Linked DNA regions of Homo sapiens: regions 1, 2, 3, 4, 6 and 7 are each reported to be linked to region 5. Evidence: microRNA targets listed by miRTarBase, many of them from high-throughput screens and not tested one by one. Region 5 holds a microRNA gene; each other region holds the end of a gene's coding sequence.

The links. Region 5 holds the annotated microRNA hsa-miR-340-5p (UUAUAAAGCAAUGAGACUGAUU, at 1,667-1,688, shown strand). A microRNA usually pairs through its seed, bases 2 to 8, with sites in the 3' UTR of a target mRNA and lowers its output. Matches are read on the target gene's strand: a 7mer-m8 pairs with bases 2 to 8, a 7mer-A1 pairs with bases 2 to 7 and ends in A, and an 8mer does both.
Region 1: the mRNA of MTF2 is a reported target of hsa-miR-340-5p. Seed matches in the 3' UTR shown: 7mer-A1 at 2,213-2,219 and 7mer-A1 at 1,896-1,902.
Region 2: the mRNA of MORF4L1 is a reported target of hsa-miR-340-5p. Seed matches in the 3' UTR shown: 7mer-A1 at 1,634-1,640.
Region 3: the mRNA of DEPDC1 is a reported target of hsa-miR-340-5p. Seed matches in the 3' UTR shown: 7mer-A1 at 2,366-2,372 and 7mer-A1 at 2,378-2,384.
Region 4: miRTarBase lists TASOR2 as a target of hsa-miR-340-5p. Seed matches in the 3' UTR shown: 7mer-A1 at 2,132-2,138.
Region 6: miRTarBase lists OSBPL1A as a target of hsa-miR-340-5p. Seed matches in the 3' UTR shown: 7mer-A1 at 652-658.
Region 7: the mRNA of TCIM is a reported target of hsa-miR-340-5p. Seed matches in the 3' UTR shown: 7mer-A1 at 1,078-1,084 and 7mer-A1 at 1,213-1,219.

The regions. Positions count from the first base shown.
Region 1 is chr1:93,135,744-93,140,390 of GRCh38, reverse strand. MTF2 (metal response element binding transcription factor 2) reads right to left here. Exons shown (of 15, transcript NM_007358.4): 15 at 1,315-3,721. The coding sequence ends at 3,364. Among named protein-coding and RNA genes, the nearest start is that of TMED5, 42 kb to the left of the region's middle.
Region 2 is chr15:78,895,752-78,900,398 of GRCh38, forward strand. MORF4L1 (mortality factor 4 like 1) reads left to right here. Exons shown (of 12, transcript NM_006791.4): 12 at 1,232-2,388. The coding sequence ends at 1,316. It also overlaps the pseudogene RNU6-415P. Among named protein-coding and RNA genes, the nearest start is that of MORF4L1, 25 kb to the left of the region's middle.
Region 3 is chr1:68,473,548-68,478,194 of GRCh38, reverse strand. DEPDC1 (DEP domain containing 1) reads left to right here. Exons shown (of 12, transcript NM_001114120.3): 11 at 223-408; 12 at 1,126-4,043. The coding sequence ends at 1,263. Among named protein-coding and RNA genes, the nearest start is that of DEPDC1-AS2, 3.3 kb to the left of the region's middle.
Region 4 is chr10:5,761,389-5,765,767 of GRCh38, forward strand. It overlaps TASOR2 (transcription activation suppressor family member 2), which reads left to right. Exons shown (of 22, transcript NM_001321783.2): 20 at 1-83; 21 at 1,144-1,258; 22 at 1,641-2,352. The coding sequence ends at 1,644. It overlaps GDI2 (GDP dissociation inhibitor 2), which reads right to left. Exons shown (of 11, transcript NM_001494.4): 11 at 3,835-4,379. Among named protein-coding and RNA genes, the nearest start is that of GDI2, 50 kb to the right of the region's middle.
Region 5 is chr5:180,014,049-180,017,048 of GRCh38, reverse strand. It overlaps MIR340 (microRNA 340), which reads left to right and starts at 1,652; the gene lies at 1,652-1,746. All of the region lies in intron 2 of RNF130 (ring finger protein 130), which reads left to right.
Region 6 is chr18:24,158,882-24,163,359 of GRCh38, reverse strand. OSBPL1A (oxysterol binding protein like 1A) reads left to right here. Exons shown (of 28, transcript NM_080597.4): 28 at 79-1,308. The coding sequence ends at 181. CABYR (calcium binding tyrosine phosphorylation regulated) reads right to left here. Exons shown (of 6, transcript NM_153769.3): 5 at 3,291-3,888; 6 at 1,760-1,844. The coding sequence ends at 1,844. Among named protein-coding and RNA genes, the nearest start is that of CABYR, 22 kb to the right of the region's middle.
Region 7 is chr8:40,153,521-40,158,108 of GRCh38, forward strand. TCIM (transcriptional and immune response regulator) reads left to right here. Exons shown (of 1, transcript NM_020130.5): 1 at 1-1,790. The coding sequence starts at 13. The coding sequence ends at 333. All of the region lies in intron 3 of LINC02866 (long intergenic non-protein coding RNA 2866), which reads left to right. Among named protein-coding and RNA genes, the nearest start is that of TCIM, 2.3 kb to the left of the region's middle.

The DNA of each region.
Region 1 (4,647 bases), not on the chromosome of region 5:
TTGAGGTACTCAAATATAACTAAGAAAAATCTCCCCACAAAAACAGGGCTTAAAAAAACAAAAAAACAAAACTGTTTCCCAACGCTGCATGAGCATCTTCTTTGTCATCACATCCTCATTCAAACAACTCTAGAACCACAATGTAAAACAGTCTGGTAGAACTGCCTAAGTCAGATCATATTCCAACCAAAATTTAATAGTACCTAGTAGAAACTCAATAAAGTGGCCCAAAACAGTTAGTTCTACCCCCAACACAGATAATAGAGATATACTCAACATACACATTATAGAAAACAACCATGCATACTTGGACATATCTTGCAAATAAAAAAAAAAAAAAGCCGGGGGCACCTTCAACTCTAACACATCAGTGAACATTCAATTCTGTTAAATATTTAGTAAAGAATATATGTAGCAAGAGCTGGCTTCATCACCCCTATATTAGAATTTATAGAGTAACTCTGATAGCTTATATTCTGGCTCTAGTTTGGTGGTCTAAGGGTCTAGGAATACACATTTATCACTTAGTAGCAGAATATTTATAAAAATGTATTTGTTTTGAATAAAAATGGAATTACAATGAGTAAGGTATATTGTTTCCACATCTTTTATATGCCTAGGGGCAAAACTTATTTTAAAAGTACAGGAAATCCTTTTTTTTTTTTTTTTTTTGAGACGGAGTCTCACTCTGTTGCCCAGGCTGGAGTGCAGTGGTGCGATCTTGGCTCACTGCTTCACTGCAAGCTCCACCTCCAGGGTTCACGCCATTCTCCGGCCTCAGCCTCCCGAGTGGCTGGGACTACAAGCGCCTGCCACCACACCAGGCTAATTTTTTTGCATTTTTAGTAGAGACGGGGTTTCACTGTGTTAGCCAGGATGGTCTCAATCTCCTGATCTCATGTTCCACCCGCCTCGGCCTCCCTAAGTGCTGGGATTACAGGTGTGAGCCACCGCACCTGGCCCAGGAAATCCTTTTATATGAACCCTAACAATTCTATGTAAGAAGCAAACATAGTTGGAAAATTAAGTCTGAATTTTTTAAAGTTTGGGGACACAATAGAGATATATTGTCTTTCAAATATAAAGTGTACATGCTCACTAAACGTACTTTAAGACCACTTAAGATGAACATGTGATAGTTATTAATATTATAAGAGGGATGAAGAAAATGAAAGCAAAGTTTTATAAAGATTAATTCAAGTGAACATACTAGCAGTGGAATTAGAAAATCCTTACCACCCTAGCTAAATAAAAGCAGTCAACTACTGCACTAGTGTGTATTTTCAAGCAAATACAGAAGCAAAACTCATTAGCTCTTTAAAAAATACACACATTTAATGTTGGTCTGTTTTAATTTCTAAGTAAAGCAATTCCAAAAATACAAACTGAACATCAGAGCCATGTGAACCACCATGAGAAAATAAAACAGACATTCACAATAATTACGTCTAAAGACAGTTCAGCTGGATAAATCATCTTCCAAGTATGTTAAAGAAAAATTTCTAAAAATACTGCTGGTGTTCAGTTAGAATTAAAGGACTTTGGGGAAAATGAAATAATATGATACAGGTGGAGTGAATAAGGATACACGGGATTTACATTTTTCATTACCCCTAGATATAAACAAACATTCAAAAATCAACACAAACTCTGTGTGTTATTCAAAATATTGCAGCTGCAGGAAAGGCAACCTTAAATTAATAGCTAGGGGAAAATCAAGTTTTGGTGGAGGTAAACAGAAGTAACAGTTTTTAATTTGCACTTTTGTAAAGCTCATTTATACCTGGCCAACCAGGAACCAAATGCAGACAATGAAGTTCTCTGCTTCTTTTGGCTATAATGTGACAAGAAAGGATCATCTTTTGAAGATGTTTAAAGAAATAAAGCAACTTTCTTTATAAACAGTCAAATAATCAATTAATGGAATAAATAAGTACTAACCCACATTTTAACCACTCTGTAATCACTACACTTTACATATTTTTTATTTTGGTGGCAAATTCCCCCATAATTAGTCTAAAATCCACCAATCACTTTTAAAAGTAAAATGAATAGCCACCAAAATAAGAAAATCTTCTGTTCACTCTTTGGCTAAAAAGGAAAACAAATAAAACAAAACAAAAAGAAACAGAAGACAACTGTAACACTGGTGATAAAAGAAACTTTTTTTTTACAAGTAAAATAAAGTTATCAATTTAAATCTTGGTACACTTTATAAAAACAAGAGGTAATGTTGTAATAAAACAGCAGTAGCCTCAGCTGGCAACATACTGTTTGTTAACCCTGTGCAATAAAATACTTTGTTCATACTACACTTATTCAAACATGACTAACAGTTACTACAGACATTTCAGGAATCTTCACGGGACTCCTATAGACTTACTGTTAAAAATGAGAGACATTTACAATCATAATGTGCCATGAAAACTTGAAAACGTTACTTCTAGTAGGAGATAATGTTCATATTATTTGAATTTGTTTTAGGTACTGAACAGCTGAGTTACAAGGACTAAAAGTGAAAAGCATTCTAAAAGCCCATGAACACTGTTGTTCACACCCTTCTTCAGAACACACTAAACTTGTCTGACACATTTCTCTTCATACATAGCAAGCAACAGCACCCAATAAAAGCCTGAGAAGAAATGCTGCTGTGTAAATACTGCAACTATTCCTGAAAAAAGAATTATGGGATATATACTCCAAAGCTGCCCATTCCCATAATTTGTATTGCATAGGTCACATAATCACACACATATATATACACGTGTGTATATATATGCACATGCAAGAATATATTAAGACGACAATGAAGTCTAGTCACAGAGCAATTTACAGGCTCAATATATTTTTTTACACTTTGCTTGAAAGAAAATTTCAATATTTTACAGTCTTTCAGTAGGCATTATATACACTGCACTTTATGAAATCTAAAAGGTATTGAAATAAATTTTTCCAACATTTTGGTAACAAAACAAACAACGTTTCTCCAAATACTTGTGCTATCTACATGATGTTTGCTCTGATAATCACTAATCACAAAAAACTGACTCAATGGAATAATTAGAAAAATTGTCTAACACCATGCATGGGTTTCAATCATTTTTAATATCCTATCCTAGAAACATTCTACAAATCTTAAGATTTAAAAAATTAAGTCTCTGTTCTGATTTTTAAAAGATACCTTTTTATGACAATATCCATAACATTGACAGGTACATGTTAAGGCTAGTATCATCCCCTTTTTTGAATTTTTTTGACTTTTTTTTTTTTTTAAGAAAGATAGTAAAAGCCAGACTCCTTTAGGGCTTTGAACTGTACCTACAGAAAATCAGAGTGCAGTGAACATAATGTTCAGTCCTACAGTCAGGATGCAGTTGCTCCTTCCCATTCCACAAGATACTGCACCTTTCCATCAAGTGTCACCCGACGTGCCAAAACTCGGTATTTTTCGCCACATGCTATTCTACCTGCAGCACCAAAATAACTGGTAATGGAGTTCTTTAGATGATTGAGTTGTAACTCCTGATCTGCTAAGTTATTCAGAATCTCTGTGTTGAGTTCATCAAACTGATAATCTTCTTTGCCTTCATCATCTTTTACAATTTCTGAGTTCTGAGTCTGGAGTGCTCTTCTTGGAAGACGACCTCTTCTTCTCCGCAAATGTGGTATTGCAGCAGGCCAAGATCTTCCTGTACGCGTTCTTTTTCTGGAGTCAGATAATCTATGTAACAGAGAAGGCCAGAATTGTCTACTGAGCTTTTTTAGCATCCTATGCCCATACAATATGTTCTCTTTTCTGGATTACTCTACTATACCATATATCCTTGATGATATAAAAATGAGCCAAACCCAAACAATAAATGCTATATAAATGGACTATCACTTGGGCTCATTACTTTAGATTTTGTCACGTTCTTGGAGCTGAACTTTGTGGAGCTTTTCTTCCTTAACTACTAGTAAGTTTAGGGTAATTTTTTTACTTAGGAGGCCAACAAGGAAAATTCTTACGAAGAGGCCCTACTCATAAATCAGGTATTGCCAATAATCACATCATTTAAAAGAGCTCATTCATTTGTTCATTAGAACAAATAATTAATGAGCACAAACTACATCTATGACACTGCTCCATGTCCTTAAAGAGTGGAACTAGAATAGAGGTTCTCTTATTACCAGTTCTAGGCCTAGTGAAGTAATACACCAGAATCAGAATAAGCACAAACTAGCAGTCAGAGTATCCTGGGTCTATCCCTAACTCTATTACTTGGCCAAATTCAAATCTCAATCTCTATGTTCATGAACTTAATGAGTGAAGGGGTTAGACTGGATAATGTGTGAGGTCCTTTTCAGCACAGAAATTCAATTATTTTATGATTTTATAATAAAAGGAGAATATAGTACAACAACTAAATTGAAAGACCTACAGTCATACTGTATAAGTTAACAACCCAGCTCTGTTATACTTGCTAAACATGCAATGTTGGGCTTGTTACTTAAAATCCCCTAAGTCTCACTTTCCTCATCTGTAAAATGAGAACAACAGGACTTACACAACTCAAAAAATTGTTCTCTTTTGTTTGTTTGAGACAAGGTCTCACTCTGTTGCCCAGGCTGGAGTGCAGTGGCACAATCATGGCTCACAGGAGCCCT
Region 2 (4,647 bases), not on the chromosome of region 5:
AGGGAGGGTGGGAGTTTTCAGTTTCTACTTTGTATACTTCTGTATATGAATTTTCTCATTACAATCGTTTTACAGTAAATTTAAAACTGCAACGTGGACTTGAGAATGTAGGCAAGATTTATCATCTTTTCTTTACTAATGATAAATACCTTCTTTGGACCTCAGTTTCTTTATGGAATGTGCTCTACTACTTGACATTTCACGTTCCCTTTTATGTAATTAAAAAAAAAAAGTTTATTCATTTAGAGATGGAGTCTTGCTCTGTCGCCCAGGCTGGAGTGCAGTGATGCGATCACAGCTCACTACAACCTCCGCCTCTTGGGTTCAAACGATTCTTGGGCCTCAGCCTCCCAAGTAGCTGGGATTACAGGTGCACACCACCATGCCTGACTGATGTTTGTATTTTTAGTAGAGATGGGGTTTTGCCATGTTGGCCAGGCTGATCTTGAACTCCTGGCCTCAAATTTTTGTGCCTCGGCCCCCCAAAGTGCTGTGATTACAGGTGTAAGCAACTGTGCTTGGCCTGATAGGATTTTTTTCTTTTTTCTTTTCTTTTCTTTTTTTTTTTTTTTTTTTTTTTGAGATGGAGTTTCACGCTTGTCCATGCTGGAGTACAGTGGCGTGATCTCAGCTCACCACAACCTCTGCCTCCAGGTTCAAGCAATTCTCCTGCCTCAGCCTCCCGAGTATCTGGGATTACAGGCATGCGCTACCATGTCCAGCTAATTTTGTGTCTTTAGTAGAGACGGGTTTCTCCACTTTGGTCAGGCTGGTCTTGAACCCCAACCTCAGGTGATCAGCTTGCCTTGGCCTCCCAAAGTGCTGGGATTACAGGCATGAGCCACCACTCCCGGCTGATAACGATTTTTTTTTTAGAAAATGTCTAGATGTTCTTTTAGGGTAATGCTGTCATGTAATAGGATAATAACTGTTTCTTAAAGATGGTTCAAGCTCCCAAGTTGGTATTCTGCAGACATAACTGTTCTTTGCTGTTTAGAAATAGGGGAGTAACTCCAGAGTTCATTCCTTTGTATATGTATAGTGTTGTTCATTGTATAACCTTATTTATTTACCTGAATTGTCATTATGTGTGGTTTTACTGTGAGAGAATGTCTGGTTTAATGTATTTTAGGAAAGTGTTTTCTGTGGCTTATGTATATAATATATAGGAAGAGATTTGGATCAAGATAATGACCTTTAAAAATTTTTGTAATGAATATTTTATTTTTAGGTACCTGGCAAAGAATTCTGCAACTTTGTTCAGTGCCAGCGATTATGAAGTGGCTCCTCCTGAGTACCATCGGAAAGCTGTGTGAGAGGCACTCTCACTCACTTATGTTTGGATCTCCGTAAACACATTTTTGTTCTTAGTCTATCTCTTGTACAAACGATGTGCTTTGAAGATGTTAGTGTATAACAATTGATGTTTGTTTTCTGTTTGATTTTAAACAGAGAAAAAATAAAAGGGGGTAATAGCTCCTTTTTTCTTCTTTCTTTTTTTTTTTCATTTCAAAATTGCTGCCAGTGTTTTCAATGATGGACAACAGAGGGATATGCTGTAGAGTGTTTTATTGCCTAGTTGACAAAGCTGCTTTTGAATGCTGGTGGTTCTATTCCTTTGACACTACGCACTTTTATAATACATGTTAATGCTATATGACAAAATGCTCTGATTCCTAGTGCCAAAGGTTCAATTCAGTGTATATAACTGAACACACTCATCCATTTGTGCTTTTGTTTTTTTTTATGGTGCTTAAAGTAAAGAGCCCATCCTTTGCAAGTCATCCATGTTGTTACTTAGGCATTTTATCTTGGCTCAAATTGTTGAAGAATGGTGGCTTGTTTCATGGTTTTTGTATTTGTGTCTAATGCACGTTTTAACATGATAGACGCAATGCATTGTGTAGCTAGTTTTCTGGAAAAGTCAATCTTTTAGGAATTGTTTTTCAGATCTTCAATAAATTTTTTCTTTAAATTTCAAAGAACAATGTGCTTGTGTTGATGCCTTACAAAAACCATTGTATATTTGTGTATTCCTTCTTGTATTTAGACAGTGGTTTTTCAGGTGCGTGCTTTGTTTTCTGGTATGGCCTTTATGGAATGAGACGCTTTAGCTTTGGTACGTAGCGCTAATCCATAGCAGCTTTGGCAGTTTGCTGTCTTGAGTCTTAGCTAAAAAGTTAGAAGTTTACATGACTGTTTTTTTTATTTTCCCTAAATTATTACTTACTCTGAGCATTAATTAAGGGCATTTTCACCTGTGTAAAATTATGGTCAGCTTTTTTCTGTCTATAATTGTTTACTTTTGTGGGTTTACTCTAGAAACATGAGCCAAAAATGTCAATAGACAACACAGTATTAAAATAACCCAAAAGTTGTAAAGGGCAACGTTTCTCCCCTTTGATAGGGACACTAAAGTGGTCTGTACTTGGGTAGAGGATGGCAGACGTTAAGAATTAAAATGCGTCTGGGTGCAGTGGCTCACGCTTGTAATCCCAGCACTTTGGGAGGCTGAGGCGGGCGGATCACCTGAGGTCAGGAGTTCGACACCAGCCTGATGAACATGGAGAAACCCCATCTCTACTAAAAATACAAATATTAGCTGGGCGTTGTGGCGCACGCCTGTAATCCCAGCGACTCACGAGGCTGAGGCAGGAGAATTGCTTGAACTCAGGAGGCAGAGGTTGCAGTGAGCCAAGATTGTGCCATTGCACTCCAGCCTGGGCAACAAGAGTGAAACTCTGTCTCAAAAAAAAAAAAAAAAAAACCCTCAGAAAACAATTAAAATGCAAAGCAGCAGATAAGTTCAGATGGCGAGAGTTACAGCAGCAATACAAGAGGGATAATGAGTGCAGGAGGGAAATAGGAGTAAGTTCCAAAGAAGCAGGATTTGCTTGGGTTGTTTGAAGGGAACTGCTTCTACCCATAGTTGTCTTCCTGCCGCCTCCTTCATTCGGCTTACTTGTTCTCTTTTTCTTTACCCTTTTTGTCACAACTGTACTGATTTAGTTGGATTTCTAACAAATAGGGATTGTTGTTGCCTGGGGTCTTTCAGCTGTTGAAAGTTCTTGTTTATCTAGATGTGACTTAAAAAATGAAACACTTCAAGAATTTACGTGTCATTCTTGGCACAGGGGCCATGCTAATCTTGATTGTTTGAATTTTTAATATTTTTGCTAACAAAATGAGCCCTAGATGTGATTTTTTTTTTTAATGTGTACTCATGGTCCCTTGAACATTAGTGTTACTGGTTAGGTATTTAAAGATTTTCTTGCCGAGCGTGGTGGCTCACACCTGTAATCTGTAATCTCAGCACTTTGGGGCTGAGGTGGGAGGATTACTTGAGCCCAGGAGTTTGAAAGTAGCGTGGGTAACGTAGGGAAGAGACCTTGTCTCTACAAATAATTTTTTTTTTTTTTTTTGAGGCAGAGTCTCTCTCTGTCATCCAGGCTGGAGTGCAGTGGTGTGATCTCGGCTCACTGCAAGCTCCGCGTCCTGGGTTCATGCCATTCTCCAGACTCAGCCTCCCGAGTAGCTGGGACTACAGGCACCCGCCACCATGCCTGGCTAATTGTTTGTATTTTTAGTAGAGATGGGGTTTCGCCACGTTAGCTAGAATGGTCTCGATCTCCTGACCTCGTGATCTGCCTGCTTCGGCCTCCCAAAGTGCTGGGATTACAGGCATGAGCCACTGCACCCGGCTTCTACAAATAATTTTATGAGTAGCCTGGCATGGTGGCGTGTGCCCATGGTCCCAGCTACCTGAGAGGCTGAGGCAGGAGAATCACCTGACCCCAAGATATCAAGGCTGCAGTGAGCTGTGATTGTACCATTGTGTTCCAGCCTGGGTGACAGAGCGAGACCCTGTCTCCTAAAAAAAAGTTGAGGACTCGATCTTTTCGTTTATATTATCAATATTTACTGTGCTAGAAATTAAAACTTTAAAACTTAAAAATACGTGTCTTCATTAGTCATCAGAATGATACCGTCACACATCATGTAACCTCAGGAAAATTTCATGTACACTCGAGAAAAAGACTGATTTAAAATAGCTTTAACCTCATAGGCAGCATGAAAATATCTCAGGTACTGCAGAGATCTCTGGACCACTCGTTGAGAACTGCCGCTATAGATATTTGTGTCCTGAGGGTTGTAACAGTCTTAGGGTTCTGTATTCAGAAATTTAAACATTCCTTCACAAAACCTGAAAGTCAAGATTTTGTTCGTTATTCATTAAGCCTCCTCCCTCCATTTAAATATAGCATTAGAAAAGAACATTGATAGGTTTACCTGATGACACTAAAAGAGGCAGTAATCTTTGGACATTAAATCTACAGAGTATTTTGAATATGTTTTCATTTACTAGTAATTTTAATGTCGCTCCAGAATATCTTACATATTAGTAGTAAGTAGCTGGAATGATGTAATCAAAATCATACTGATTAATAATTACTTACCAAAACATGAAATTAGATGAATATTAATATTAGTACCGTTAGGTTTTAATACGGTTTTTTCTTTATTTTTTATTTTTTGAGACAGTCTTGCACTGTTGCCCATGCTGGAGTGCAGTGGCGCGATCTCGGCTCACTGCAACCTCCGCCTCCCAAGTTGAAGCAATTCTCCTGCCTCAGCCTCCCGAGTAGC
Region 3 (4,647 bases), not on the chromosome of region 5:
AAAGTTAAATACATTGTTGAATGCTACAAACCAAGTAGATTATGGAGCTGGGGTTTAGAACCTACTGACTTACATACCTCTACTGCATAATACATAGTTTTTTTAATGGCTGAATGTTTGATTGGTGGTAAATTAATAGGTGCTAGATCCCATCAAAAGAATACTTTATCATATAAGAACATGACCAGAATTAACAGAGTTATATCATTTTGATCACTACAGATTGAAAATCCTGGAGATGGACTATTTGCTCCTTTGCCAACTTACTCATACTGTAAGCAGATTAGTGCTCAGGAGTTTGATGAGCAAAAAGTTTCTACCTCTCAAGCTGCAATTGCAGAACTTTTAGAAAATATTATTAAAAACAGGAGTTTACCTCTAAAGGAGAAAAGAAAAAAACTAAAACAGGTAAGAGAATGAGCAAGTTCTCAATCATGTAAACATTTTCTAATGTGCTGTTCCTGGTTGTTAATAACATTTAGAATCTACTTTCTTATTTTAATATTTTAGATTTTAAGTTTGAGTTATATAGACTATATATTATGATGTCTTGTATATGTGCGTTAACCTAAAACATGTGAGTACCTACCTGATTTTGCTCTTTATCCTGAATTTTAAAATAATACCAACAGTAATAATATATACTCTCCTTTTTCACTGGTATTTTGTATAATTATAGCTTGGATTAGCCTGGGAAAGCAATTTATAAGGTATGGATATGTATCTTTGAGTGACTTATCACTGTTTTAGAATTTTTAGCTCTGAAAGCCCAGTAGCCACATGATTTTGGCATGTCTAATTCTAAGTCTGAGACACTGAAAGAAATATGAATACTAGATGCCTATGCCCTTCATAGGTTTTATCAGTGGGAAAGAAGATCTGGAATTTAGGGGGAGAATTAACATCGGAAGAGAAAGAATCCTAAAATGTTAATGTTAATGAGATCTAAGAGATCTTATAGTATTCACATGAGAAGAGAGAGGGAAAGGCAAGGATAAAATGAAAGGATACTAATCTCTATACTACGTCTTTGAGAAAAACACTGAATTCTTATAAAATGTTGAGCACTGCTTCAGCTTGGGAAATAATGTTAAATACCTTCTAATTTCTCACCTCATTTTTAAGTTTCAGAAGGAATATCCTTTGATATATCAGAAAAGATTTCCAACCACGGAGAGTGAAGCAGCACTTTTTGGTGACAAACCTACAATCAAGCAACCAATGCTGATTTTAAGAAAACCAAAGTTCCGTAGTCTAAGATAACTAACTGAATTAAAAATTATGTAATACTTGTGGAACTTTGATAAATGAAGCCATATCTGAGAATGTAGCTACTCAAAAGGAAGTCTGTCATTAATAAGGTATTTCTAAATAAACACATTATGTAAGGAAGTGCCAAAATAGTTATCAATGTGAGACTCTTAGGAAACTAACTAGATCTCAATTGAGAGCACATAACAATAGATGATACCAAATACTTTTTGTTTTTAACACAGCTATCCAGTAAGGCTATCATGATGTGTGCTAAAATTTTATTTACTTGAATTTTGAAAACTGAGCTGTGTTAGGGATTAAACTATAATTCTGTTCTTAAAAGAAAATTTATCTGCAAATGTGCAAGTTCTGAGATATTAGCTAATGAATTAGTTGTTTGGGGTTACTTCTTTGTTTCTAAGTATAAGAATGTGAAGAATATTTGAAAACTCAATGAAATAATTCTCAGCTGCCAAATGTTGCACTCTTTTATATATTCTTTTTCCACTTTTGATCTATTTATATATATGTATGTGTTTTTAAAATATGTGTATATTTTATCAGATTTGGTTTTGCCTTAAATATTATCCCCAATTGCTTCAGTCATTCATTTGTTCAGTATATATATTTTGAATTCTAGTTTTCATAATCTATTAGAAGATGGGGATATAAAAGAAGTATAAGGCAATCATATATTCATTCAAAAGATATTTATTTAGCAACTGCTATGTGCCTTTCGTTGTTCCAGATATGCAGAGACAATGATAAATAAAACATATAATCTCTTCCATAAGGTATTTATTTTTTAATCAAGGGAGATACACCTATCAGATGTTTAAAATAACAACACTACCCACTGAAATCAGGGCATATAGAATCATTCAGCTAAAGAGTGACTTCTATGATGATGGAACAGGTCTCTAAGCTAGTGGTTTTCAAACTGGTACACATTAGACTCACCCGAGGAATTTTAAAACAGCCTATATGCCCAGGGCCTAACTTACACTAATTAAATCTGAATTTTGGGGATGTTGTATAGGGATTAGTATTTTTTTTAATCTAGGTGATTCCAATATTCAGCCAACTGTGAGAATCAATGGCCTAAATGCTTTTTATAAACATTTTTATAAGTGTCAAGATAATGGCACATTGACTTTATTTTTTCATTGGAAGAAAATGCCTGCCAAGTATAAATGACTCTCATCTTAAAACAAGGTTCTTCAGGTTTCTGCTTGATTGACTTGGTACAAACTTGAAGCAAGTTGCCTTCTAATTTTTACTCCAAGATTGTTTCATATCTATTCCTTAAGTGTAAAGAAATATATAATGCATGGTTTGTAATAAAATCTTAATGTTTAATGACTGTTCTCATTTCTCAATGTAATTTCATACTGTTTCTCTATAAAATGATAGTATTCCATTTAACATTACTGATTTTTATTAAAAACCTGGACAGAAAATTATAAATTATAAATATGACTTTATCCTGGCTATAAAATTATTGAACCAAAATGAATTCTTTCTAAGGCATTTGAATACTAAAACGTTTATTGTTTATAGATATGTAAAATGTGGATTATGTTGCAAATTGAGATTAAAATTATTTGGGGTTTTGTAACAATATAATTTTGCTTTTGTATTATAGACAAATATATAAATAATAAAGGCAGGCAACTTTCATTTGCACTAATGTACATGCAATTGAGATTACAAAATACATGGTACAATGCTTTAATAACAAACTCTGCCAGTCAGGTTTGAATCCTACTGTGCTATTAACTAGCTAGTAAACTCAGACAAGTTACTTAACTTCTCTAAGCCCCAGTTTTGTTATCTATAAAATGAATATTATAATAGTACCTCTTTTTAGGATTGCGAGGATTAAGCAGGATAATGCATGTAAAGTGTTAGCACAGTGTCTCACATAGAATAAGCACTCTATAAATATTTTACTAGAATCACCTAGGATTATAGCACTAGAAGAGATCTTAGCAAAAATGTGGTCCTTTCTGTTGCTTTGGACAGACATGAACCAAAACAAAATTACGGACAATTGATGAGCCTTATTAACTATCTTTTCATTATGAGACAAAGGTTCTGATTATGCCTACTGGTTGAAATTTTTTAATCTAGTCAAGAAGGAAAATTTGATGAGGAAGGAAGGAATGGATATCTTCAGAAGGGCTTCGCCTAAGCTGGAACATGGATAGATTCCATTCTAACATAAAGATCTTTAAGTTCAAATATAGATGAGTTGACTGGTAGATTTGGTGGTAGTTGCTTTCTCGGGATATAAGAAGCAAAATCAACTGCTACAAGTAAAGAGGGGATGGGGAAGGTGTTGCACATTTAAAGAGAGAAAGTGTGAAAAAGCCTAATTGTGGGAATGCACAGGTTTCACCAGATCAGATGATGTCTGGTTATTCTGTAAATTATAGTTCTTATCCCAGAAATTACTGCCTCCACCATCCCTAATATCTTCTAATTGGTATCATATAATGACCCACTCTTCTTATGTTATCCAAACAGTTATGTGGCATTTAGTAATGGAATGTACATGGAATTTCCCACTGACTTACCTTTCTGTCCTTGGGAAGCTTAAACTCTGAATCTTCTCATCTGTAAAATGTGAATTAAAGTATCTACCTAACTGAGTTGTGATTGTAGTGAAAGAAAGGCAATATATTTAAATCTTGAATTTAGCAAGCCCACGCTTGATTTTTATGTCCTTTCCTCTTGCCTTGTATTGAGTTTAAGATCTCTACTGATTAAAACTCTTTTGCTATCAAGTTTCTTTTCTTGTGTCTCACAATATATTTTCTACCCTATCAGTGGTAATATTTTCTTTACCTCGTTTTTGGTGAAATGAAAGATGGTTATGGAATTTTATATCCTGGTAATCTGTACGACCAAGAGATATACCACCCTTTTATTTTGAAAGTGGAGAGAGAGAGAGAGAGAATGTGTGTGCATGCATGCGTGTGTGTGTGGGGGGGAGGGTGGTATTGTTGAAGAATTTCTGGGAAAGAAATGAAGGATAGCTAGTTTTAATATTGAATTAAATTGAAAGAAAATCGTTTCACCAAAATTAATTTAACAGTTCTAAATACAGTAAGTACAGCAACTCAGACTTATGTATTTACTCAGAATTAACTTCTATTAAGAATTTTTTGTTTTCTCAGAACTGGGAGAAACATATATGTTAGTTGTTTTTATGTCTTCTGAAAACCTCTCAGAATGTGTAGTGAGGAAACAGAATTTATTAGACAAGTAAAAGTATTGTTCGACTTCTGCTCATTATAAAAACTCACAATTTTTCTACCAAAGCATAGCTTCATGTATATTAATGGACTTCCAAATTGTCCCTTCTATCATAAGCAACTAGGAAATGAG
Region 4 (4,379 bases), not on the chromosome of region 5:
ATCAACAAAAGCAGAAATTCTGAAATGTTTGCTAAACCTGCAAATTCAGCATATTGATGCCAGGTTTGCTGTCCTCCTAACAGGTAATTCACAGGCGCATTTTACTCAGTTAATGCCAAAATTGGTCAGCTCTAGGAATGTCAAAGTTAGATACCTGATGAAGAGTATCAGGTATCTAAATGGCTTGGCATCCCATGGATACCAGAATCACCCAAATCTGCTGAAGCTGAAGCCCTTATATAAAATGTAGTATTTGCAGGTAACTACACAATCCTCCTATGTATGTAAGTCAGTTCTAGATTACTTATAATACTCAATACAGTATAAGTAGTTATACCGTATTATTTTTTAAATCAATACTGGGGCTGGGTGCAGTGGCTCACACCTGTAATCCCAGCACTTTGGGAGGCCGAGGCGGGCGGATCACTTGAGGTCAGGAGTTAGAGACCAGCCTAGCCAACATGGTGAAACCCCATCTCTACTAAAAATACAAAAATTAGTCAGGTGTGGTGGTTCATGCCAGTAGTCCCAGCTACTTGGGAGGCCGAGGCAGGAGAATGGCTTGAACCCCGGAGGCAGAGGTTGCTTTTAAAAAATTTGTGGGGCAGCCAGGGACAGTGGCTCACGCCTGTAATGCCAGCACTTTGGGAGGCTGAAGCAGGTGGATCACTGAGCCCAGGAATTTGAGGCCAGCCTGGGCAACTTAGCGAGACCTCATCTCTACAGAAGTTGGCAGGTGTGGTGATGTGTGCCTATAGTCCTAGCTACTTGGGTTAAGGCAGAAGGATTGCTCGAGGCTGCAGTGAGCCGTCATCACACCACTGCACTGTAACCTGGGTGGCAGAACAAGACCCTATCTATCTTTAAAAAAAAAAAAAAAAAAGTGTTAAGAAAAATTTACGTAAAGAACCATAGTTATCATTTTTCAGGGATTTTTTTTCAGTACTTTAACCACCACCCCCGATGGAGGCATCTATTTCCAAAGCTTCAAATCTTTTCTTAATTTGGAACCCAACACCTTTTCTCCCCCTACCCCTCACACGAGGAAGTTCCACAGATTTTTTAAAATAAAAAACCAGGTCCTGTTATATAAAAGTACATTAATTATATTAACCAAAAGTTGTTTTTTTTTTTTTTTAACAGACAAGCCTACTATCCCCAGAGAAGTCTTTGAAAATAGTGGAATCCTTGTTACAGATGTAAATAACTTTATAGAAAACATAGAAAAAATAGCAGCTCCATTTAGGAGTAGCTATTGGTAAGAACACTTTTTATGTAACTTTCCCATGTGAGTTGGAGTTGTTGATGGCAAATATTGACATTTGTGTCTAAGGGAAACAGTTGGGAAACTGTTGTTTACATACTTCATGCTATAAATTTAAAGTGTTTGTTTAGGGGTGGAATTGCTATTTGGCATAAATAGGAATTCCTAAATTATCACTAAATGAAGTAACCATCTACTAAAATTACCTATTTTATCTAATGTGCATTTTCACTTGCTGTTAACTTGGATCGTCAGTACAGAACATAATGTAACCTTAGAATGCATAGGCGTTTTCCCCATTAGAGCATCCCGCTTATAAAATATTTCTTGTTCGTATTATTTTAAGAAGTTCTTTATCAATTTTGTGTTTCTTCAGGTGACTCAACTACAGCCTGCCTGGATATGGATGATGCCAATAAAAAATTAGTATTTTCCCTTTGGAAAACTTGTGAACATGTGAATACACATGTGAACAGTCTTACATTTGAAAAACCAATGTTCTACAACTTGGAAAGTTTTCATTTTTTATATTTTGCTGAAATATGTCACAGTGGCATTGCAGTTGTCTGTTAGCTTTGGGTTGCAGTGCTAGATATTGTTTTAAATTATTTTCATTTTAAACAAGATGCCTTCTAAGCTATTGAGCTTATTAAAAATAATTTTACATGTTTACTTAGTTGGAGCAAAAATAAGTCTATTTTAACAAATAGCTTTGTTTTTGCATGCTAATGTCAGAAAGGCATACGATGCACATTATGCTCTGTTTTAAAGGTTTTACCACCCTTGTAAAAACTATAATCTTAAATGGTTTTATTTGCTGTTACACAAACAACACTACATAAAACATTTTTTCCTAAATGGTACAAATTTATAAACTATCATTTTTCACTTACGGTATTTGTAAATACTACACTACAAAAATCAGCTTTCTGAGAAAGAAATAATCATTTATTTATGATATTGAAAATTTCTACAGTAAACACTCAAAACCAAGCAAAAAACATTTGTAAGATACACGGTATCTATTTGGAGCAACGGTTTTTGTAACTAATGTGTTTCATTTTTTAAATAAAGACAACTAAAAATAATCTCTTTCTGCAATGATTTTTATAGCAGAAATTGACTTATCTGGAGTGTTCTAGCAATTTTTAGGTCATTTAGCAGAACAGTAAGCTTCCAGAGGAAACCTACACTTCTATCCTTTGGGCCTGGCCTGTTCTGTTTCTGGGTTCTTTCCGCAGTCAAGTACACCGAGTAACAGGTTAAAGAATGGCAGTTTCACCTGGCCTTTACAGGGACACTTACTTCTTTCAGAAGTCATTAAGTCGGCTTTTATTATTCCTAAACAAAAGAGCTTTATTTTCTCATGAGTAGGTTTTAGAGTTTTAATTGTTGACAATTTTTCAGTTACTAATAGAACCCCAGTCATTTCATTTTATTTTTCCAAGGACAAGAGTCTATTAAGGGAACCATTAACTATTCAGTACAGTGAATTACTTTCAGATTACTAAGGAAAAGGAAAGTGAGCAGTTATAAGATGCCAAACACCTATCTATCTGCCTGAAATATGCACCTTTCAGGTTGGACCTAATAACATTCACCTCCCCTTGCTGAAAAGCCTTCCAACACCCACGAGGCCATCTCAGTTTCCATGCTACCTTTTCTGTAACTCTACTAATAACCAAACCACATCATGTGTTCACCAAACTGAGTTATCCCAGTAACTACCATTATCATCTTTGTCTCCACTGGCCTGGCACACAAGGTATTCAGTAAATACGTTGAATGAAGAATATGAAGATGCGTGGTTTTTCTTTTTTCACTTATTACTAACCCAGCTTGGGCCTTTGCATGGGAAGAGAAAAAGGCTTGCTGGGACTTCAGATAATTTTATCATACAGGTAAAGCAGTGGTTCTCAACATCTGGAGACATTTTTGGTTGTCATTCCAAGATGGTGCTGTTGCCATCTAGTGTGTGGAGGCCAGGGATGCTGCTACAATCAACCCTATCAACAGAGAATGATCCAGCCCAAAACATCAACTGAAGTCGAGAAGCTCCATCATTTTGGCAATATGAATAACAATCTAAATCACCACCCTAGTTCCTTTAACACATCATCTACCTTAGTCTGTCTCCTTCATACTCTGAAGAGTCAGTGTTTATCTGTGGTAAACAACAGCATCTGCCGTGAGGCTCATCACTGTCAGGGGAAAGGGCCTTATATGTAAACACTTTATCATTTCAACTACACAAAAATTATTTACTAAAGCACCTACTCTACCTGACAGTTCACTTACTCCCTTATAACTGCTGCTACAAGCAAAATCATTAAACACTATTTTTTCTGCACAAAGATGATAGGTCTAGTAATGGTACTGTGTCAAGAATAAAACTCGAGGTCTACTCACAGGGAAGCCAGACGACAGGACCTGCTGTGATCCTTCCAGATCAGAAGACACCCACGCTTTCCGCTGCTGAGCATTCTGACTGGCATTGACTCCAGTGCTACCAAAGGAAGCACGGCAGCTGTGACCCTTGCAATCAGGACACACAAACCAACACCGGGCAGTAGTTTCCAGAATTTGGCTTTATTTTGCAGTACAGAAATCATTTGGAGCCATTTTGAGACAGAAGTAGAGGCTCTGTCAAGTCAATACTGCATTGCAGCTTGGTCCACTGAAGAAGCCACGCCTGAGATACAAAAGATGCACTACACTTGACCCGCTTTATGTTCGCTTCCTCTCCCCTTCTCTCTCATCAACTTTATTAGGTTAAAACACCACATACAGGCTTTCTCCAAATGACTCCCTATGTCTGGGGTTTGGTTAGAATTTTATGCCCACATAAACCAAACTTGTGGCTATGCTATTTGGGCCCTGCCATAACATTTGACATAATACAAAATATAAAGTCATAGGGAAAACTTCCGGATGCTGTCCCAAACCGTGGAATATTCAATTTAGAATCTCCTGAACCTCAAGAGGACAGATGACACACAACCTGTATGGATCCAGCTCTTGAGCAGCAGCAGCACATAGCTACACTGATTAAAAGATTAAAAAAACTGTCTCAAGTTGTCTGTGTCGGTATCCCAATGTTTGTTTAACTTCACTA
Region 5 (3,000 bases):
ATTGAATCCTGGACACAAAACTAAACAAGTTAAACAGCTATTAAAGTCATCACCACAGATACCTGAAAATGGACCATCTATTAAAGAACACAGGGTTAAATTTCTTGAGGATAAGTAAATGAATTGTGGCCACGTAGCTAGCCTTGTTCTTAGGAGGGACCGTGGAAGTATTTAAGAATAAAATGTCATGTGTTTGCAGTTTACTCTTAATTGGTTCAGCAAAAATAAATACATATAGAAAGGACAAAATGTTGACAAATCTAAATAAAAGGTCCATGAGTGTTCTCACAGTATTGGAACTGCTCTATGGGTTTGAAAATTCTCAGGATGAAAGTGGAAAGAATAGAATTGTTTATTAAAGTAGCCAGACTCAAGCAGTGTGGAAACAGAAGTTCCTGTTAAAGAATAACAGTGGGGGAAGTTTCTCAAGAAAATAGTTGGAAGCAGGGATCACAGATGGGCTTTCACTGGATTGCCATCTCTGACAGTTAGTACTGGCGGCCAGACGTGGAAGTGCGTGGGAGCGTGGCCGCATCCGTGACTTACTAGCAGTGTTTGCCCAGGGCCTGGGACATGGGAGTGGTGGGGCATGTCCCAAATGTGCTTTGATATTTACAGCGTTACAGTCTAATTATTCTTCACTCTTTTCAGTCACTGCCTCCTCTGACCGGCCCTTTATTGTGAAGCCTACATTTCCTTTGGCGTGAAACTGGGCCAGAGCTCCTCAGATCCTTAAAAGTCAAGTGTCTGAGGCAGCTTTAGGTCAGGGTCTTTGAGCCCTATCAGGCTTTAGGGGTGGAGTATGGGGAGAAGGCCCTTTCTCCTAGGAGGGGACTCCTATATAACTTTCGCCAGATTCTGTAAAAGATTTAAGACCTAAAACTCCAGTCCTTTGCAAGTTGGTGGCGGGCTTTCGTTCTGCTGTCCTCCTGCCCGATCGGCAGGGTCGGGCTCCTCTGCCCGGCTCTTCTCTGTGCTGGTGTAATGACGCCACCGCGAGCGGCTTCTCTTCCTAGTCCAAAAGGTTCCCCCTTTGCTCCTGAGGGCGTGTGGATTTTTGCATCAAGAGCAGGTAATTTTCTACTCTCTTTAAGAGGTGAAAGGAGCCTGATCATAGTATGTGCTCAATAAATATTGTTGAATGGATGGTTGAAATAATTACACACTTCTTTTCCCAAACAGCTTTCCCGTTGAAATTAGTTGGTGTTCTTATTTAGTGTTCTTTGAATAGAATCACATGGATTGGTTTCCTTGGCTACCTGTTCAGCTTTCCTTTCCCTACTCCTTTCCCTACTCCTTTCCTACTCCTTTTCCTACTCCTTTCCTACTCCTTTCCCTACTCCTTTCCCTACTCCTTTCCTACTCCTTTCCCTACTCCTTTCCTACTCCTTTCCTACTCCTTTCCCTACTCCTTTCCCTACTCCTTTCCCTACTCCTTTCCCTACTCCTTTCCCTACTCCTTTCCCTACTCCTTTCCCTACTCCTTCCCTACTCCTTCCCCTACTCCTTTCCTACTCCTTTCCCTACTCCTTTCCTACTCCTTTCCCTACTCCTTTCCTACTCCTTTCCCTACTCCTTTCCCTACTCCTTTCCCTACTCCTTTTCCAGCTTGAGTCTTCAAGAGGGAGCCTCAACTGATTTCTAAAACCGTTTGTACCTGGTGTGATTATAAAGCAATGAGACTGATTGTCATATGTCGTTTGTGGGATCCGTCTCAGTTACTTTATAGCCATACCTGGTATCTTATACCACAGATCATGGCCCGTTGAACAACATTTTAAGAGATTTCTAAAGGGAAATTTAAAGCGGTTTAGCATTATTTTGTGATTGTCTCTAATTTACTGATCACAACTCTTATTTCAGAAAGGTAATTAGATATTAATTAGATGTTTATTGCTTGCTTTAATTTTATAGTTTTTTGTAGATTTTTAATCGGTATTCTGGTAAACTGCTGTTCTAATAAAGTGGCTGTAACAATTTTGAGTAAGGTAGTAAAAAGGTATATGTTCCATTGGGTTACATTTTCCATAAAACTCCTTTTACTGTTGTATTTCTCTTCTTTTTTTTGAGGGTCTTGCTCTGTCACCCAGGCTGGCGTGCAGTGGCGTGATCTCAGCTCACTGCAGCCTCAACTTCCTGGACTCCAGTGATCCTCCCACCTCAGCCTCCTGAGTATCTGGGACCACAGACATGTGCCACCATGCCTAGCTAATGTTCCTGTTTTTGTGAGAGACAGGGTTTCACCATGTTGCCCAGGCTGGTCTTGGACTCCTGAGCTCAAGCAATCCACCTGCCCTGGCTTCCCAAAGTGCTGGGATTATAGGCATGAGCCACCACGCCCAGCCCTGTTGAATTTCTTTTCAGTTGCGTGTAGTCTTCTGTGACTGCATGTAACACAAAGATGGTTCTTTTAGCTAAATATGGTAAATGAAACATGTAAAACCAAATATTTCAATGTGTTATTCATTGAAGAAGGATTGAAAAGGACAAGTTTTGGGGACTTCTGCTTGATTGTTTTGTTGGTTTACATTGATATGTACAAACCTTATTCAAATTCAAATAAGTGGTTATAATTTTCTCTTTCCCAAAATAAAATATTTATTTCCCTTCTAATGACCCCTAGTCTCTCTCAGGGGCTCTCTGGAGAAGGCAAATGTAGAAGCTACATGTTGCCACCGGCAGCTTCAGCTTATGAAAGGACAATCGCTGATAGATTGATAGAAGTTTCTCTGTTTCCTTAAAAGACAGTGGGAAGTTATTTCCTTTGTGGAGGAGGAAAGGGATAGCAGTTTCCTGCTGTCCATAGGAAGAGGTATTCAATTCCTTCACTGTTACTACTTCTGGAAATTATGTAGGGGAAAGGTCTAGGTAACTATAAGGCAACTTAAGACTGTCCTCGTAATTAACTTGCATAGCCTGTGCTTGTGGGCAGACCTCTGGACAACTGTTAGAGGCTGGAGGTATTTCGATGCCAAACTGGTCCAGAATGTTGAAGCCTGG
Region 6 (4,478 bases), not on the chromosome of region 5:
ATACTGCAAACTAGTGAAGAAACAGCCTGTGATTTTCCATAGTTTCCCCTGTAAGTCTTGTCCTTTTTCTTTTAACAGGTGGTTCCATCAAGGTCCTAATCCCTACAATGGAGCACAGGACTGGATTTACTCTGGCAGCTACTGGGACAGAAATTACTTCAATTTGCCTGACATTTATTAAAATGCATACAAGTCAGGGTGTTTGGCTAATCTACAAATAAGTCTTAAACCTATGTTTTTAAATTTTTTTCCCTTGGTTTCTACTTATCTTTTAAAAAAAAAAATGAAAAAACACTCATGAGATAACTGCATTTCACCCAACAAAAGCAGGGTATAAGGCGATATTGGTGATGAAAGTCTTAGGAAAAATGCATAATTTTGCTATAAAATGTACTTATTTGGAATACTATTTTATATAGAGGTAAGAGAACACTGCTGGGGAATATGCTTTTTATGGTTGCTGTTGCCATATTTACTGAAGGTTTATACCTAAATGTAACTTTAGCTTTATGGAACTATATAGTAATCCCAAATCAAGTTATTTTGAATATTTTTATGCTGTCATGCTTGAATGTTTTAGATGTAACCTTTGACATATTTAGAACTCTCCTCCTATACAATGTTTATTCTCAGATATAGAGGTTATGTCATTTTATAAAGACTTCATTGATAAGATGGCTTTTATTCATACTAATCCTCCCAATGTTACCCCTTCCATCTTCCAAGAAGAAAAAAAATGCCTGAATATTCAGAATAGATATTTCTGATTTGAAAATTCTAAAGAATTAAACTGGAAAAGTATTTCATTTACTTAGTGCTCTGAATTTACTTTTACAGTTTTCTGCAGTCAGTATCATTAAAATGGTTAAGTTTACATTTGAACTGAAAATATGTATAAAATCTAGCAATTCACAAAAATGCCCTAGAAATATAGATTTTAATCACCATTACATAATGACAAACCTTGTTAAATGCTTCCACTTCCAGTGGCAAATGCCACTAGGGAAAGTAAGTTGCACTCATGTAAGTATCAAACTATATAAAAGGAGGCCTTGTGCATTTCAAGTTTGCAAAGTACCTGTGTACTTAAAATATGTGTGGAGACCTACTGTACAGTAGTTTTGCCCCTTTAATTGGGGCACATTCATCTTAAATCTTATAGTATTTATCCACCCAAACCCCAGACTGAGATACTGCTCCCAGGGGCCTAGGTAGCTGCCAGTCCGTGATTTTAATTGCTGTCTTGAAGTTAACAAGTGTTATAATGAAATAATCTACCTGATGCTAAATAAAGGCTTTAGAATGTTCCCCAAAAGTGTGGTTTCTTTTAAAATTTCAAATATACTAATGTTGCCACTTAATACTATCCTAAATTGTTAGACGTGTCCTACGAAAGAAGTCCTTGTGGTACCATAGCTCCCAGGGTCAAGGAGATGATAACCAGTTACCTGGCATGCATAGTGGTAAGTAGGCATTTATCTATCCAGAGATTAACTGAATGCTAGATAGATACAGCATAGAGAGGTGCTACCGTATTCATTCGGTGTGAATCTCAAATGCAGAATCAAGTGGAACTACCTGGTTAGAAAATTTGTTACTAGATCTGTTAGAGTGGGAATAGTTTAAAAAAGTATACACATAGGAGTTGGAAAATGCTATTGCTTTATAAGTCTGAAAAGATAGATGATTGATAGGCCTTTTGTGTTTGGTTGGTTGGTTGTAGTCCTCCTAAATTACAAAAAAAAGCAATACAAAATTGTATGCTTGCATGAAGTTTATTGATACATTACACTGGTGGCAGACTCCTCCCTGAAATGTTGACCCAGACAGCGTCATTTCTGGATCTGTTAGGAATAATGCAAACATTGAATTGTTTAAAGTTAAACATGAAACCGAACATGTGAAATGAGCAGAAGATTAGAAATGCAAGGTCTACCCTCCTGCTCTGTTACTAAGCTTAACTAGTTACCTATGGGCTTTTGCACTGAAATATCCCAGCAATTTCATGCTGAAAACAGCCATTTTGGCAATTCCACCAGAAGTCCATAAAGAGGTTGAAGAAGTACATGTAGCCCTAAGATAAGATAATTTTGTCTTTCCTTAAATATAGTAACTGGTCCTTGAGCCTGCTTATGAATGAAATCTAGCTTTTGTCGATCTCTCAGATGCTCAACTTAAAATTCCCACTAATTATTTTAAGTAACTAATTGGTGTATAACACTTCTGTACTTTCAACTCATCTCCCTACTTCCTCTGTTGACCTCCCCCTTACTGCTAATCTGTTTTCCACATAGCAGCCTGAGTGATCTAATAAAAACAGCAATCAGTCATTCTTCTGCTTAAAACACTTGTGCTGGCTTCCCATTGAACTTTTCAATCAAAATCTTTCTTCATTTTATATAATCTCCCCATTTCCCCCCAGCCAGTCTCACTGTGGCCTACTTCGCTGTCTCTGGAACCCCCGTGTTCTTTTCTGCCCTAGGACACAGCCTGGGCGCACCCTGCAAAGCTGGCTTCTTCTCATACTCAGGTGTCAGTTTACATCTGAGCCTGAACACCCTACCTAATAGTGACAATTAAAGGTAGGCCTGTGTCAGCACCCTGTTTTCTCCATAATACTTTACATGTTGTAATACACTTTTTTGTCTGTCTCCCCAACTAAGATGTAGGTCCCATGTTTTTGCTCACGCTACTGTCCACACATAGGGGAGGAGGGCTAGCATAAGGTTTGGCATTAAGTATGAATGAAAAATTAAAAAATGATTTGTGAGTGATCAAACTGTCTCATCCACAGTTAATCTCAGCTGTTGTTTAGCTCTTTACTCTGCCTCTCACCTCTCCATCTACTGCCTCTTACCACGTGGATTAAGTGTTCTGTTACATAATCAAGACTTTCTCTCTTACCTTGCTCTTCAGTTGTTCCCAGCTCCTCCCTACTCCCTAAACATGCCAACTAAATTGTCCTGTTTTAAAAATCCATCCCCTTTTCGCATCTACCACTGTGTTTGTTAGACAATGGACTAGGTATTCAAAGGTGACTGAGTTCATTAGTTTCATGTATCGGGCATCAAATCCTTGGCATGAGTCATTGTGGTACAGTGCACCTGCTGTGCATTTATTAGTAACTGGTGTTTAGGAAGTTGGAGACAGTAACCCCAGGAAGTTAGAGTATACCCCAACTTATTATCTCAAATTGTTTTTAAATATCTAAATCTCCAGGTCAAGAAATCAAAATGCTTAAAACGCGCGTGTGTTAAGGCCTAAATATTATGGTAGGAAAGTGTACCTACCAGTTTTCAGTTTCTGCTTTGCGACGTTTGTGAGCAGTAGTCACGGTTACCTCCCCAGCAATACCGTAACTTCCAAAGGGAGCACATTTGTCACCAGATCCTGAACTTTTTTTAGCTACATCTTCTACTGGGAAAGCAACAGAAAGGAAAACAGGGCTTTTTGGCCTGGGGACATCTTGTCCACTTGGAGGATTAGCATTCTGGGGACTTAGGGTATGTTTCTGGTATTTCTCATCTGCAGGAACAGCAATGGGCACTTGCATTGCAACATATCTCAAGACATCTGACTGTGAAACGACAGCATGTCCAGGAAGAGGTTTCCATCCCTGTGCTTCCTGAACATTTGAGCCTACTAAGATAAAAGGTGGGGCACTGGTCTTCTTGGTGTCGCCCATCACATAAGTTGGAAAAGTGACTTTTGGTGGATGCTGCTGAAACTGTGGATCCTTAGGATTAGGTAAATAGAGGGTTGCTTGGGGAAAAGGCCCAGGTGCAGGTGGCGGTGATGGGTGACCTTGTTGATTCTTATCAGTTAGACAATAAAGGGTCCACATGTTAGAACATGGTGGTGGTTGTCCTCGTTCACTTGTTGCCATTGCTATAAAAAAAAATTTTGCAGGAATTAAAGTTTTGGTCTCTGTATCAGGCACTATGCATAGTAATGTCTTTGTAAGTCTCTTTTACATATAAAACAGCTGTAGTGATATGTACCGTAGAGCATGCTATAGAGAGGGCTGCATAATCGTGTTTGACAGGTGAAAGAGATTCTCTACAGTTGAAAAAGGAGAACAGTGTTGTGGTGGCAAGTGGCAGGGACACTACAGTTGTGGCTGAAGAAGCAATCTTATTCTAAGTTGCAGTTTCCAGCTACTTCAACTTTAGACGTGGCTTCTATAGGCTCCTCGCAGACGAAACTGGTCAACACAACCTTTAGCTTTACCCAAAAGTCAATTGAAGAGTGTGTTAAGCCATTAAAGGAAGCGTTAGTGCATCTGCATAGTGTTTATTTCCTAAAGAAGTTAGCACTAGGTGTCATCTTCACATAATCAAAATCTCTCTGGCCCTTCAGAGGCACCATTATCTCCCATTAATTTGTTACCACACATAAAACGTCACATAATCTAGGATTGAGAACCCCAGAGAGCACCCCTTTTAGGCAAGACTTGAAATCATAGATCCTAGGTGGCA
Region 7 (4,588 bases), not on the chromosome of region 5:
ATCCCCACATCGATGAAAGCAAAGCGAAGCCACCAAGCCGTCATCATGTCCACGTCGCTACGAGTCAGCCCATCCATCCATGGCTACCACTTCGACACAGCCTCTCGTAAGAAAGCCGTGGGCAACATCTTTGAAAACACAGACCAAGAATCACTAGAAAGGCTCTTCAGAAACTCTGGAGACAAGAAAGCAGAGGAGAGAGCCAAGATCATTTTTGCCATAGATCAAGATGTGGAGGAGAAAACGCGTGCCCTGATGGCCTTGAAGAAGAGGACAAAAGACAAGCTTTTCCAGTTTCTGAAACTGCGGAAATATTCCATCAAAGTTCACTGAAGAGAAGAGGATGGATAAGGACGTTATCCAAGAATGGACATTCAAAGACCAAGTGAGTTTGTGAGATTCTAACAGATGCAGCATTTTGCTGCTACCTTACAAGCTTCTCTTCTGTCAGGACTCCAGAGGCTGGAAAGGGACCGGGACTGGAAAGGGACCAGGACTGAACAGACTGGTTACAAAGACTCCAAACAATTTCATGCCCTGTGCTGTTACAGAGGAGAACAAAATGCTTTCAGCAAGGATTTGAAAACTCTTCCGTCCCTGCAGGAAAGGATTGATGCTGATAGAAGAGCCTGGACAGATGTAATGAGAACTAAAGAAAACAGATGGCTGGAGATGACATTTATCCAGGGTCACTTTGTCAGGCCCTAGGACTTAAATCGAAGTTGAACTTTTTTTTTTTTTTTTAACCAAATAGATAGGGGAAGGGAGGAGGGAGAGGGAGGACAGGGAGAGAAAATACCATGCATAAATTGTTTACTGAATTTTTATATCTGAGTGTTCAAAATATTTCCAAGCCTGAGTATTGTCTATTGGTATAGATTTTTAGAAATCAATAATTGATTATTTATTTGCACTTATTACAATGCCTGAAAAAGTGCACCACATGGATGTTAAGTAGAAATTCAAGAAAGTAAGATGTCTTCAGCAACTCAGTAAAACCTTACGCCACCTTTTGGTTTGTAAAAGGTTTTTTATACATTTCAAACAGGTTGCACAAAAGTTAAAATAATGGGGTCTTTTATAAATCCAAAGTACTGTGAAAACATTTTACATATTTTTTAAATCTTCTGACTAATGCTAAAACGTAATCTAATTAAATTTCATACAGTTACTGCAGTAAGCATTAGGAAGTGAATATGATATACAAAATAGTTTATAAAGACTCTATAGTTTCTATAATTTATTTTACTGGCAAATGTCATGCAACAATAATAAATTATTGTAAACTTTGTGGCTTTTGGTCTGTGATGCTTGGTCTCAAAGGAAAAAATAAGATGGTAAATGTTGATATTTACAAACTTTTCTAAAGATGTGTCTCTAACAATAAAAGTTAATTTTAGAGTAGTTTTATATTAATTACCAAACTTTTTCAAAACAAATTCTTACGTCAAATATCTGGGAAGTTTCTCTGTCCCAATCTTAAAATATAAAATATAGATATAGAAGTTCATAGATTGACTCCTTGGCATTTCTATTTATGTATCCATTAAGGATGAGTTTTAAAAGGCTTTCTCTTCATACTTTTGAAAAATTTCTTCTATGATTACAGTAGCTATGTACATGTGTACATCTATTTTTCCCAAGCAATATGTTTTGGGTTTAGAGTCTGAGTGATGACCAAGATTCTGTGTGTTACTACTGTTTGTTTAATAGGAACAAATATAGAAATAATATTATCTCTTTGCTTATTTCCCGTTAAAACTATAATAAAATGTTTCTAGGACAGCATACGTAAATGCCTGCTATGCTTTCCTAACAAAAATGAAATTTTTCCACAAGTTAAGCATTTTAGAAACACCTAAAGTGTTTTTCAAAATGCTGATCACAGTAAGTCAAAACAAGTGAATTACCTCACATCTGCTGGGAGGGTTACAAGTCAGGATTATAAATACTATGTTTTTAAAAAGAAAATCAAATGGCAAATTCTATTTTCAAATAGTAATTTACTCGTTCACTGAAGATAATGCAAAGCACTTTATTAAAAATGAGTTCTTTCCAAGAGAGCATTCCGGAAGATAACACATTAATATGCAAAATTGTGTGTGTGTGTGTGTGTGTGTGTGTGTGTGCATTTTTCTAAGAGGAATATTGATAATTTTCACGAGATTTGTAGAGACAGCTATAACTCCAAAAAAAGTTATAAACAGAAAAAGGGTTTGCGGAGTAGCAGGAGAATTGGAGGAAGCCTAACCCAGGCTGGGGACATACTAGACAATTCCATAGAAATTTTCCCTGTTTCATTTTCACTGTGCTGTGTTACGGGAGTATGAAAGAGAAGGCTGTAAAGAGGCCCTCGGCTCCATAACCCTACTTTCCCATCCTTATGAACTGAGCTTTCTTAATGTTCACTGCGTGTGCTAGAAATAACTTCCTTCTCCTGATAGGGCCCATCAGTGAAAATCTTTATTTTCTATTCAAAAATTGAAGCACACTTGGATGCTAAATGTAGTTCAAGAGTTAAGTGTATTATACATACTCATAACTATTTACTCTGCCACTGTTGTTTTCAATAGGGTACAAAGTATATCTTCTCCTCTTTTCACATTAGCATGTATTAAGTTGTTTTCTTGCAGTATATTACGTTATTTTCTGATTTCAAGGCTGTAACATGGGAGACAAATTAAAAAGCAATTTGGATGCACTCCACAATGGTATGGAGAATAATAACACATCCAGTAGATTATCACAAACGTGTCATCTTTACCATTCATGGAGAACAAAAGTTGGAATCAATTTAATTGCATAAGGATGATTTTTAGCTTCATAATACATTCATTACTTAATGTGAGGTGAAAATAAACATCAGTAGAACAGGGAGGATTGGTTCAGTTTAGAAATTTATGGCACAAGGATAAACAAATATATCTCAGGACATCTCACTGTAATTGAAGAAATGAAAGCAGCAAAGATTAAATAGCTCGTTAATCATATTTGTATCATGAGATCACAGTAATAACTTTCACTGAGTGTTTACTCTCAGTCAGACAATTTTCTAAGTGTTTTTTTTGTGTATTACTAATACATCACTTAATTAGTGCCATGACATAAATGCTAAGGGCATGTGCGTGTGTAATATAGTAATAAAACTGAAGCACAGAGAGGTGCAGTAACTTGGTCAATGACACGCAGCTAATAACTCCAGAAATCAAATCCAGGAACTCTGGCCTTCATTCCCAGCCACTAGACTATACCGGTTCTTTAGGAGAAACCAAGCTTCTCTTTTTCTTTTAAGTAACGATACTTCTATGTTAGTCAGTCATGAAGACAGGAAGGCCTGGCCTCTGAAGCATCACTTTTATCTGACCTGGGTATGTTTGTCTATTTATTTGTTACACGTGCTACATGGGGAAAGCGTCTTAGTTTAATAGTTTTAATTGTATCAAGGATGTGCTTAGATACAGGCTTTCAAGCCTGCAGTTAAAATAACACTTGTATTAGCATCCTGGAACACAAGGCCACACGTAAGCTTTGGGTCTTAGTTTGTTCATTGAAGGAACTCAGAAACCATGGATTCAATATTTTATTCACTCAGTTCATCCCCTGGCCCACAGCAAAGGGGGATTTGTCCAGCAGATAGGATTTTCTGAGAAAGGGGTCCAGGGTGTATGGTTGACTATATTTTTCTCATCATCGGAGGGTAACCAGGGTACGCAATTGACATTCCCTTAGAAAGTTTCATCTGCTAGTAAACTAATAATGAAGCCATGGCCTGAGGATTGCATGTTTTTTCAGAGTATTTAGTTGACCTTTCTATACTCCACATGAGGGTTTCTCAGAACAGCCTGTATGGATTCCCAGCAGAACAGATGTGGGGGGCAGGGCAGCATTTGTATCTTACCCATTCAACAAAAATACAGTAAGCACCCATATGTGGGAGCCTCCATGGCCAGAATGGATCCTGGTTCTCCATATCAGAAGAACAGGAAAGGTTTTTAAAAGGGGTATCACACGGTGAGAAGTGTGATGGGAGTTTAGACAGAATGCTCTGGAAGCATAAGGCAGGAATTATGTGTGTGTGTGTGTGCGCGCACGCGCGTGTGTTTGTGTTTGTGTGTGCGTGTGTGCTTGTGCATGTGTGTGTGTGCTTGTGTGTGTCTGTGTCTGTATGTCTGCGTGTTTGGGGAGTAGCAGGAGAATTGGAGGAGGCCTAATCCAGTTGGAGGAGACCCTAGCAAATTCCACAGAGAATTTTCCCTGTTTTAAAGTAGGAGTTGGGGGAGTAGAGAGAAAAATTTTTATTTCAGCCTATGCCTATAGTATTTGCCAAGACAAGGAGGCAGGAAAGAGTATTTGAAAATCTCCAGGCAGTTCAGTCTGACTAGGGGCCTAAGCATTCCCAGCTAATAATTAGGAAGGCAGCCAGGGCCGGGTGCCGTGGCTCACTCCTGTAAGCCCAACACTTTGGGAGGCCGAGGCAGGCAGATCACTTGCGGTCAAGAGTTCCAGACCAGCCTGGCCAACATGGTGAAACGCTGTCTCTACTAAAAAATACAAAAATTAGCAGGGTGTGGTGGTGCGTGCCCGTAAT